2 separate regions of the Homo sapiens genome follow, and region 2 is linked to region 1. The links come from fine-mapping of genetic effects on gene expression. A gene starts in region 1. The other region holds a variant in brackets. All regions are shown on one strand. Distances are between the middles of the regions. Region 1 holds the start of ADAMTS13 (ADAM metallopeptidase with thrombospondin type 1 motif 13). Region 2 has its middle 9.0 kb from the start of VAV2.

Region 1 (4,000 bases):
TCCGCGTGCCTCGTGATCCACCTGCCTCGGCCTCCCAAAGTGCTGGGATTAAAGGCGTGAGCCACCACACCTGGCCCAGGTTTTCTTTTTAAAAAAGGAAAAAAACTTTGTTCCAGCAGTTTGTAAACCAGGGCAATGCAGCCTTCTGTACAAAGGTGCATTCCAGGGAACAAAGAGAACAAAGAAAGAGGTCGTCTTTTGTAGAGAACTTCCTGCCCAGGTTCCCACTTTGGTCCACTTATGCAAATGAGGAAGGCACACTTGCTTAGTTCTGATTGGTTAATACTTGCTGAGTTCAGATTGGTCGATGCAGGTCACAGTCGATGGGTTGATTCTGGCGGCATAAACAGGAACAGATAGCTGTGAAACCATCCCAGAGTTAAGTGAGAGTGGGGGCTTTCCAGGAACGCAGAATGTGTGTGTGACCCTAGTCAGCAAATGGCTGCTAGGTCCTACTTTGAATTTAGGCCCAGTTAGTAACTTGGGATCCATCAAGAAGGATTGGCTCTTTCAGGGTTCACAAAGTTATTGGTGACCTTTTAAAGATCAATTTCAATGGTATGTGGGAATTGAAGGCAAGGAAGTGGAGATAGCCACTGAAAATAATGTTTCTAAGTTCTTAAAGACAGCCAGAAACAGGGCTATGGCAGGAGGACAGTGTGGGTCAAGGGAAGGTTGTTGATTGTAATCAAGAGACACCAGAGTGTCTGGGCTTGGTGGCTCATGCCTGTAATCCCAGCACTTTGGGAGGCCGAGGCAGTCAGCTCACCTGAGGTCAGGAGTTTGAGACCAGCTTGGCCAACATGGCGAAACCCCACCTCTACTAAAAATACAAAAACTAGCCAGGCGTGATGGCGGGTGCCTGTAATCCCAGCCACAAGGGAGGCTGAGGCAGGAGAATCACTTGAACCTGGGTGGCGGAGGTTGCAGTGAGCCGAGATCGTGCCACTGCACTCCAGCCTGGGTGACACAGCAAGACTCTGTCTCAAAAAACAAACAAAAACCAAAAAGAGACAGGAGAGTCATTCATGCTGATGGAGTGAGCCAGGTACCAGGATCTCGATATCTAAGCATGCCCCCTTCTCCAACAGCCTCCTTACCTTCCTGCATGAAAGCACACCCTTCCCTCCAGTCCCCCATTCCTTTATTCTGCTGTATTTTTCTCCATAACACTTACCACCTTTGAACATACTACATATACAACATGTGTCTGTCTAGCAACTTTGCTGTCTGGCTCTCTTCCCTAGAATTTAAGCTGTGAGAGGCCGAGGCTGCTGTCTGCCTGGCTTGGGGCTGCTTTCCTGGTGTCTAGCACAGAGCCTGGCCTGTTTCAGGGGCTCAGTGAAACATTTGTTGGCTGAAGGAATGAATGAATGGCTCTAGCAGAGGGGCAGAAACTAACGATGCAGGAGGAGAGAGCTGGGAAGGGATCCAGAGCCAGGGCCTGGCAGGAAGTGTAGGTGTGTCCTCCCTGATCGCAGAGGAGGAGAGAGGCTGCACTTTGAGGGGTGGAAAGACAAGGTGAATCCCCCTGCTGGTCATCAGCTTGTGCGGCTCTGTGGGTGTAAAAGAGTGGTTTGGAGCATGTGAAGTGAGTCTTCCAGGAGATGAAGGGGATTGCCAGGCCGTTTGTGATGATGCTGAGATCTGGTGCCGTGCAGCCTGCTTCTGCGACTCTCCTCATCAGGCGCAGGCACAGAGTAGGTGGAGAGTTGAGCCAGAACCACGATGTCTTTGGCACAGCCTCTCATCTGTCAGATGGGAGCGGGGACCCCGGAGAGGGAGTCAGCCGAGGTCCTGGCATTCCTTGTGAACCCCCGTCTGTGGGTTTCTGGTCCAGTGTCCCTTCTCCAGATTAGATGGCTTAGGCCTCCTCTAAGGGGGTGGGCGTGCACATCCGGAGAGCTGTCTGGTGTGCAGGACTGGGCTGCAGGTTACCCTGAACTGCAACCATCTTAGAGCAAGGCCCAGCTTGCAGCAGGAGGAGCTGCAGGCCGCCCACCCTAGCCACGGCCCCTGCCCTGGCAGGAAGCTTCCAAGAGTAAACACTGCCTAATCGTCCCGCCCAGTAGTGAGCAGGCCTGTCCCATTCCATACTGACCAGATTCCCAGTCACCAAGGCCCCCTCTCACTCCGCTCCACTCCTCGGGCTGGCTCTCCTGAGGATGCACCAGCGTCACCCCCGGGCAAGATGCCCTCCCCTCTGTGTGGCCGGAATCCTTGCCTGTGGCTTTCTCCTGGGCTGCTGGGGACCCTCCCATTTCCAGCAGGTGGGCTCATTTGCAGGAGCGGGGGTATTCTGGGAGCCTCTGGGTGGGGTATTCTGAGCTACCTGGGGCGAGGGGAGTGCCAAATAGCTGACTACATCAGCTTTGGGGTTTGCGCTGGGCAGGGGAGTCTGTACTTGGGGCTTTGGGGGATGAAGTGTGCTCACTGAAGAGGGAGTTGGTGTCTCAGTACGACCTGCTCATTCGGTGAAGCTGAACAGACAGATACTAGTTTGTCCCAAACTGTGTAGGTTGCTCTTCTCTGCCTCTCCCTTCCTCTCCCTGTCTCTGATTTCCCCCTCTCCTTCTTGGTTGGCCTCACCCACCTCCTGCCTCCTGTCTCCCTCTTCATCCATCTCTTTTTGTTCTTTTTTCTTTCTCTCTCTCTCTTTTTTTTTTTTTTTTTTTTTTTAAGACATGGGGTCTTGTTATGTTGCCCCAGCTGGTCTCAAACTCCTGGACTCAAGTGATCCTCCCACCTCGGTCTCCCCAAGTGTTAGGATTACAGGCCAGAGCCACTATGCCCGGCCCCATCCATCTCTTTTTGTCTTGCAGAGTTGTCTTCAGGCTTTGGAGCCACAGGCCGTGTCTTCTTACTTGAGCCCTGGTGCTCCCTTAAAAGGTACTTGTCCTGGTGTCTTCTCTCCCGGGGGGAGTTTCTCAGGACTTTCAAGGGGTATCTCACCACTGAGTCAGTGGTCTGGGATTTTTGGTGGATCTGGAAGGAGAAGGTCAGAGAAGCTGCTGTCAACCCTGTTAATTAACTCTGTTACTTCCTGCCAAGTTGATATAAGCTGGTCTGGGTGTTCCAGCCAGGCCAGGGTTCTCACCCTAGCTTCTGTTAAATATCACAAGGGAACGGTCACCGATTGGCTGGCCCCTCCTGCCCCATGGCCTCTGCTGAGCTGGCTGATTTTCAGGAGCTCTTGTGGTTTCTGACCGTGGATGTAAATATTTATTCCTTCTGTGGGAAACAAGATAGGTACTGGCTCAGGCTACCTCCTAAGGCCATGGATTTCCTTATGATAAAGGCCTGTCCCCATTGCCCACAGGCCCATGTCTGTGACCTTCTCCGGTGCGAGCCCCCTTCCCAGTAGGGCCATTGGCAACTTGACTAATGGCTGATGGGGGCCAGAGGCAGGTGGGCTAGTGGTCAGGGGCAACAGGAGGGCAAGGCCCACTTTGTGACCTGGTTCTTTGTGGTCTAGGCCAGAGGCACACTGACCAGTGCCTGGGGCCACGCTGGGGGCTGGATGCAGCCGACGCTGTCTGGGTATCCCATAGCCTGGGTCCTTCCAGCGCTGCCGCTCCTGAAAGGCTGGGAGATCATTGCCCAGGGTCCCTGACCCTCTAAGGGCTCCCTTGGGAGAGGACAGTGAGGGCTGGCCTGGGCCCCTGCTTCCCAAGAGACCACTGGGCTCCACTCGTGTTCAGTTTCCTGTCGGGGTCCATGATGTTACTTGTGAAACACCTGTGCCCAGAGCAGGGTCCAGGAGGCAGGGCAGGGGCTTTCCCCTTTGGGCAGAGCCACCAGGGCAGTGGGAATCTTGTCTTGATGGGGTGACCCAAAGCACACAATAGCCCAACAGCTCCTCCTGGGCCCTGCCCTTTGCGTGCCTAGTCACTAATGGGGTCTGGCTCTTGGGGTGGGGGTGACACGCAATGTCTTGACTTCGGAAGGCCATCCTTCCAAGACCTGCCAGCCCCTTTCCTGTTAGCTTTCCACTGCTTGC
Region 2 (4,519 bases), 580 kb after region 1:
TCTATCCCTCCACCCATTCTTCCGCCCATCCATTCCTCCACCCATCTCTCCATCCATCCACCTATCCCTCCATCCATCCACCCATCCCTCCATCCATCCACCCATCCATCTCTCTATTCATCTCTCCATCCATTAAATTCATCTCTCCACCCCTCCCCCACCCATCCCTCCATTCATCCCTGTATTCATCCCTCTGTGTATCCCTCACATCCCTCCACCCATCCTCCATCCTCCACATAGAAAATACTGACTGAGCACTGGCTTTGTTCATGAGGAAGGGCAAGTGAATGTTTTGACTCTTCCCAACATGATGGGATAAAGGAATTATTCTCATGTCCAAACCACATGAACACACACATTGTGCAAATTCCATTTGTAGCTACATCATGCAAATTCAGCTGTCACAATTTCCTGGGAAATTATAGGTGTAGAAAAAGACCATCTGGCCCACCATGCAGTCAGAGTATGCCTGACTGAATTATTGGGTGGGGGCTTTTACATTTTGTTTGAAAGGGCAAAATATAGATTTTTTACTTCTTGTTCAACTTTCAAAATTAAATCAAATGCCATAATCCATGGATCGTACCCTAAACTGAAATCTCTGAAATCTCACTGCCAAGTGGCCATTGTTTGGACACCTTCCAGTGACTATTTAGGAGACCGGGGCAGTTTTCTGTGAGCACTGCCTGGAGTCTTTGAGCTCATGAGTTCAGGGTCACCTAATCAAGGCTTTAAGGAAGGGGGAAACAGTCTTCCCTCCGTGAATGTGAACGGACTTCATGCAAGTGTAGGCCAGAGGCTGGGCAGCGTGTGGAGGTGGACTTGGGATCTCTGCAGGAGCCCTCTCATCACAGCCCAGCAGGCCAACCCAAAGCAGGAGAGGGAGGCGAGGCCCAGACCAGCTAGGAGGATGAGCCAAGACCCACATGGCCAGCTGTGAGTTATGGGAATGGGTTATGAGTTATGCGATACAAGGGGGAGGCTGGGGAGCCTCCTGAATGTGGTCCTTGGCAGACTCAGCCTGCCGAACTCTGGAAACTTTGGCTCTTACTGAAAGGGAGGCAGCACACCCTGGTGCTAGGAAGACACGGCCAAGGGACACTGGGCTCTAAGCCTGTCCATGCCCTTAATGGCATTCAATGCCACCCTGTCCTGGGCCCCTCCAGCTGTCCTCTAGCCACAGCACCTCCTGAGGCGCAGTAAGGGCACTGCCAAGGAGACATACCCACCCCTACCCTGCTAGACAGCACCCCTGCCAGACCACAGCTCACGTACTCCAACTCTGGGACATTTCTGCCACCCCCAAAGGAGACCCCGTATCCCTTAGCTGCCCTCCTCAACCCTGCCCATCCTCAGCCATGGCAACCACTAAGCTGCTTCCTGTCTCTATGGATTTGCCTGTTCCGGACACTTCATCTAAATGAAATCAGCCAACGTGTGGCCTTTTGTGCCTGACTTCTTCCCTCCAGCATGATGCCAAGTTCCATTCACCATGAACGTGCACCAGGAAGGGCTTCATTCCTTTTTATGGCTGACAAATAATTAATAGTAAGTGGAATCAACTTTAGTAATACACTGTACTTGATCCAGTATATTTGAAATATTATCATTTCAATATGTAATCAATGTACAAATCTATTAGAGAGACATTTGACATTCTTTTTTCTCGCCAAGTTTCAAAATCCAGCATGTGGTTTGCACTGATAGCGGACTTCAGTTTGAACCCTAAATTTTCATCAGACGCATTTGATATGTGTTTAGGTTTCACAGAATTCACAGTTGAAAAAGTAGATTTGCATACCCAAATTGTTTCCCGTAAACTTAGAAGTTTGCCAAAAATGAAATTGAGTATCAATTTTTAAATTAATTAAAATTAGAGGCCGGGCATAGTGGCTCGCACCTGTAATCTCAGCACTTCGGGAGGCCGAGGCAGGAGGATTGCTTGAGGCCAGGAGTTTGAGACCGGCATGGGCAACACAGTGAGACCCCATCTCTACAATTTTTTTTTTTAATTAGCCAAGCATGGTGGCACACACCTGTGGTACCAGCTACTCAGGAGGCTGAGGTGGGAGGATCGCTTGAGCCCGGGAGGTCGAGGCTGCAGCAAGCAATGTTTGCACCACTGCACTTTCACCTGGGAGACAGAGCAAGGCCCTGTCTCAAAAAACAAAAAACAAATTAGATAAAGATTCAGTTCCTCAGTCAGACAAGCCTCATTTCAAGAGCTCAGAAGCCACACATGCCTGGTGGCCACTGATATCTTGAACTTGGACTTGGGTCCACCTGCCTGAAGCCTGGTTCTGCCCCACCAGCATGAGCTTCTGTCTCCTCTCTCATGAGTGGCCATATTGCGATCTGCCCCACCCGTGGCCATAGGGGTTCTGGGAGAGCGGGGATGTAAAGAGTTCCGCGCTGAGGCTGACCCCCCCATATCAATACAAGAATGCAAGGATTGCTACTAAAGAGACTCTTCTCCTCCATCAGCTCAGAACTGGGCCAGCTTTGCCTGTCCCTGGGACACTCAACAATAGCAGGCCTTGGAGACTGCTCAGATGTACACACATACGTGTACGTGTGCATGTGCATATGCTGGGAACTGGGGAGAGAGTGTGGGTGATACTTCCCCAAGGGTTGGCCAAGCCTTTCTGGGCTCTTTTCTCCATCTGACCCCCATCCCCACCTGCAGGAAGAATGACCCCTTTAAATCTGATTGTGC[C/T]CCCTGTTGCTCAAAGCCCACCTTTGTGTCTACATAAAACCCTACACACCTATATTTATAGCGGCATTGTTCAAAACAGCCAAAATGCTGAAACAACCCAAAAGTCCAACAAAACAAAACACGGGGCTGGATGCAGTGGCTCTCACCTGTAATTCCAACACTTTGGGAGGCTGAAGCAGGTGGACCACCTGAGGTCAGGAGTTCGAGACCAGCCTGGCCAGCATGGTAAAACCCCATCTCTACTAAAAATACACACAAAAAAAACCCAATGATAACTAGCCAGGTGTGGTGGCAGGCACCTGTAATCCTAGCTACTTGGGAGGCTAAGGCAGAAGAATTGCTTGAACCTGGGAGGCGGAGGTTGCAGTGAGCCGAGATCGTGCCATTGCACTCCAGCCTGGGCAACAAGAGCGAAATGAAAACAAAAACAAAAAACACAGATAAACATATGGTGGAATATTACTCAGCCTTAAAAAGGAATGAAGTTTTCTGATCCATGCTACAACATGGATGCAGCTCGAAATTTTATGTTCAGTGAAAGAAGCCAGACACAAAGGCTACAGGCTACACGTTGTATGATTCCATTTCTATGAAATGTCCAGAACAGGCAAATCCAGAGAAACAGAAAGTAGATTGCGAGGTGCCAGGAGGTGGGGAGGGGGAGTGACTGCTCATGGGTACAGGGGTTTGGGGAGGGATGAAAATGTTATAAAATTGATGGTGGCGATGGCTGCACAACTCTGTGAATATACCAAGAACCGCTGAATTGTGCACTGAATTGTGGGTGGATTGTACAGCATGCAACTTCTATTTCAATAAAGCTGTTTGTTATATTTCAAAACAAAACAACAGTCTTGGGTCCCCCACCCTCTGAGCACATCCAGCCTCCTAAGCATGATTCTCAAGGCCCTCTGCACCCCTCACAGCCCTCTCAGTCTAATTTATGCCACTCTCCAGACCCACCCCAAATCCTACAATACTCATGCTCTTGAAATTCTCTCCACACCAAGCTGTGTCTGGCTTTGTCCAGCAGTGGGCCCATGGGAGGTTGGTCCCCCAGGAAATGTGTATGTCTCCTAAAACCCAGCTCAGCCATCGCTTCCCTCAGGGACCATCTCCTGGCCTCCCCAGTGCCCTCTGTACCTTGCTTAGAGGTCCTGCAATGTCTGCCTGGGTGTGGGGTGGGCTCCTGGGGGCTTGGCCTGGGGGCTTGGCCTGGGGGCTTGGCCTGTGGGCTTACCTCCTTTTTGTCCTCCCAGCACCCAGAACAGGGTCTAGCATGTCTCTGGGCAACAGAGGCTGCCACCGTGGCCCCTTGCCTCCTGGGGAGGTCTCAGGGGTCCCAGAGGGTGCTGTGTTGTTTCTGAGCACAACTGATGAGAGTTAGACACCAGCATGAGTTCATTCTCCCATCCATCCACCCATCCATCCACCCACCCATCCACCCACCCATCCACCCATCCATCCACCCATCCACCCACCAACGCACCCATCCACCCATCCACCCATCCACCCATCCCTCCATCCATCCATCCATCCACCCATCCACCCATCCACCCATCCACCATTCCATCCTCCCACCCATCCATCCACTCAGCCCTCCATCTATCCATCCACCCTCTACCCATCCACTCATCCATCCATCCATCATTCATCCACCCATTTATCCACCCATCTACCCATCCACCCATGTGTCTATCCACCTACCCAACCATCCATCCACCATTCATCTGTACATGTATCCAGCCATCCATCCATCCATCCATCCGTACATTTATCCATCCATCCATCCATCCATCCATC

Evidence for each region.
Region 2: its variant is fine-mapped to the expression of ADAMTS13 in spleen (GTEx, PIP 0.95).

What each region holds. Positions count from the first base shown.
Region 1 is chr9:133,420,279-133,424,278 of GRCh38, forward strand. ADAMTS13 (ADAM metallopeptidase with thrombospondin type 1 motif 13) reads left to right here and starts at 2,089. Exons shown (of 29, transcript NM_139027.6): 1 at 2,089-2,270; 2 at 2,823-2,889. The coding sequence starts at 2,166. RefSeq lists enhancers at 1,244-1,383, 1,614-1,663, 1,784-1,843.
Region 2 is chr9:133,999,048-134,003,566 of GRCh38, forward strand. No RefSeq gene overlaps it. Among named protein-coding and RNA genes, the nearest start is that of VAV2, 9.0 kb to the left of the region's middle. The variant C/T (reference allele first, on the strand shown) is at 2,717.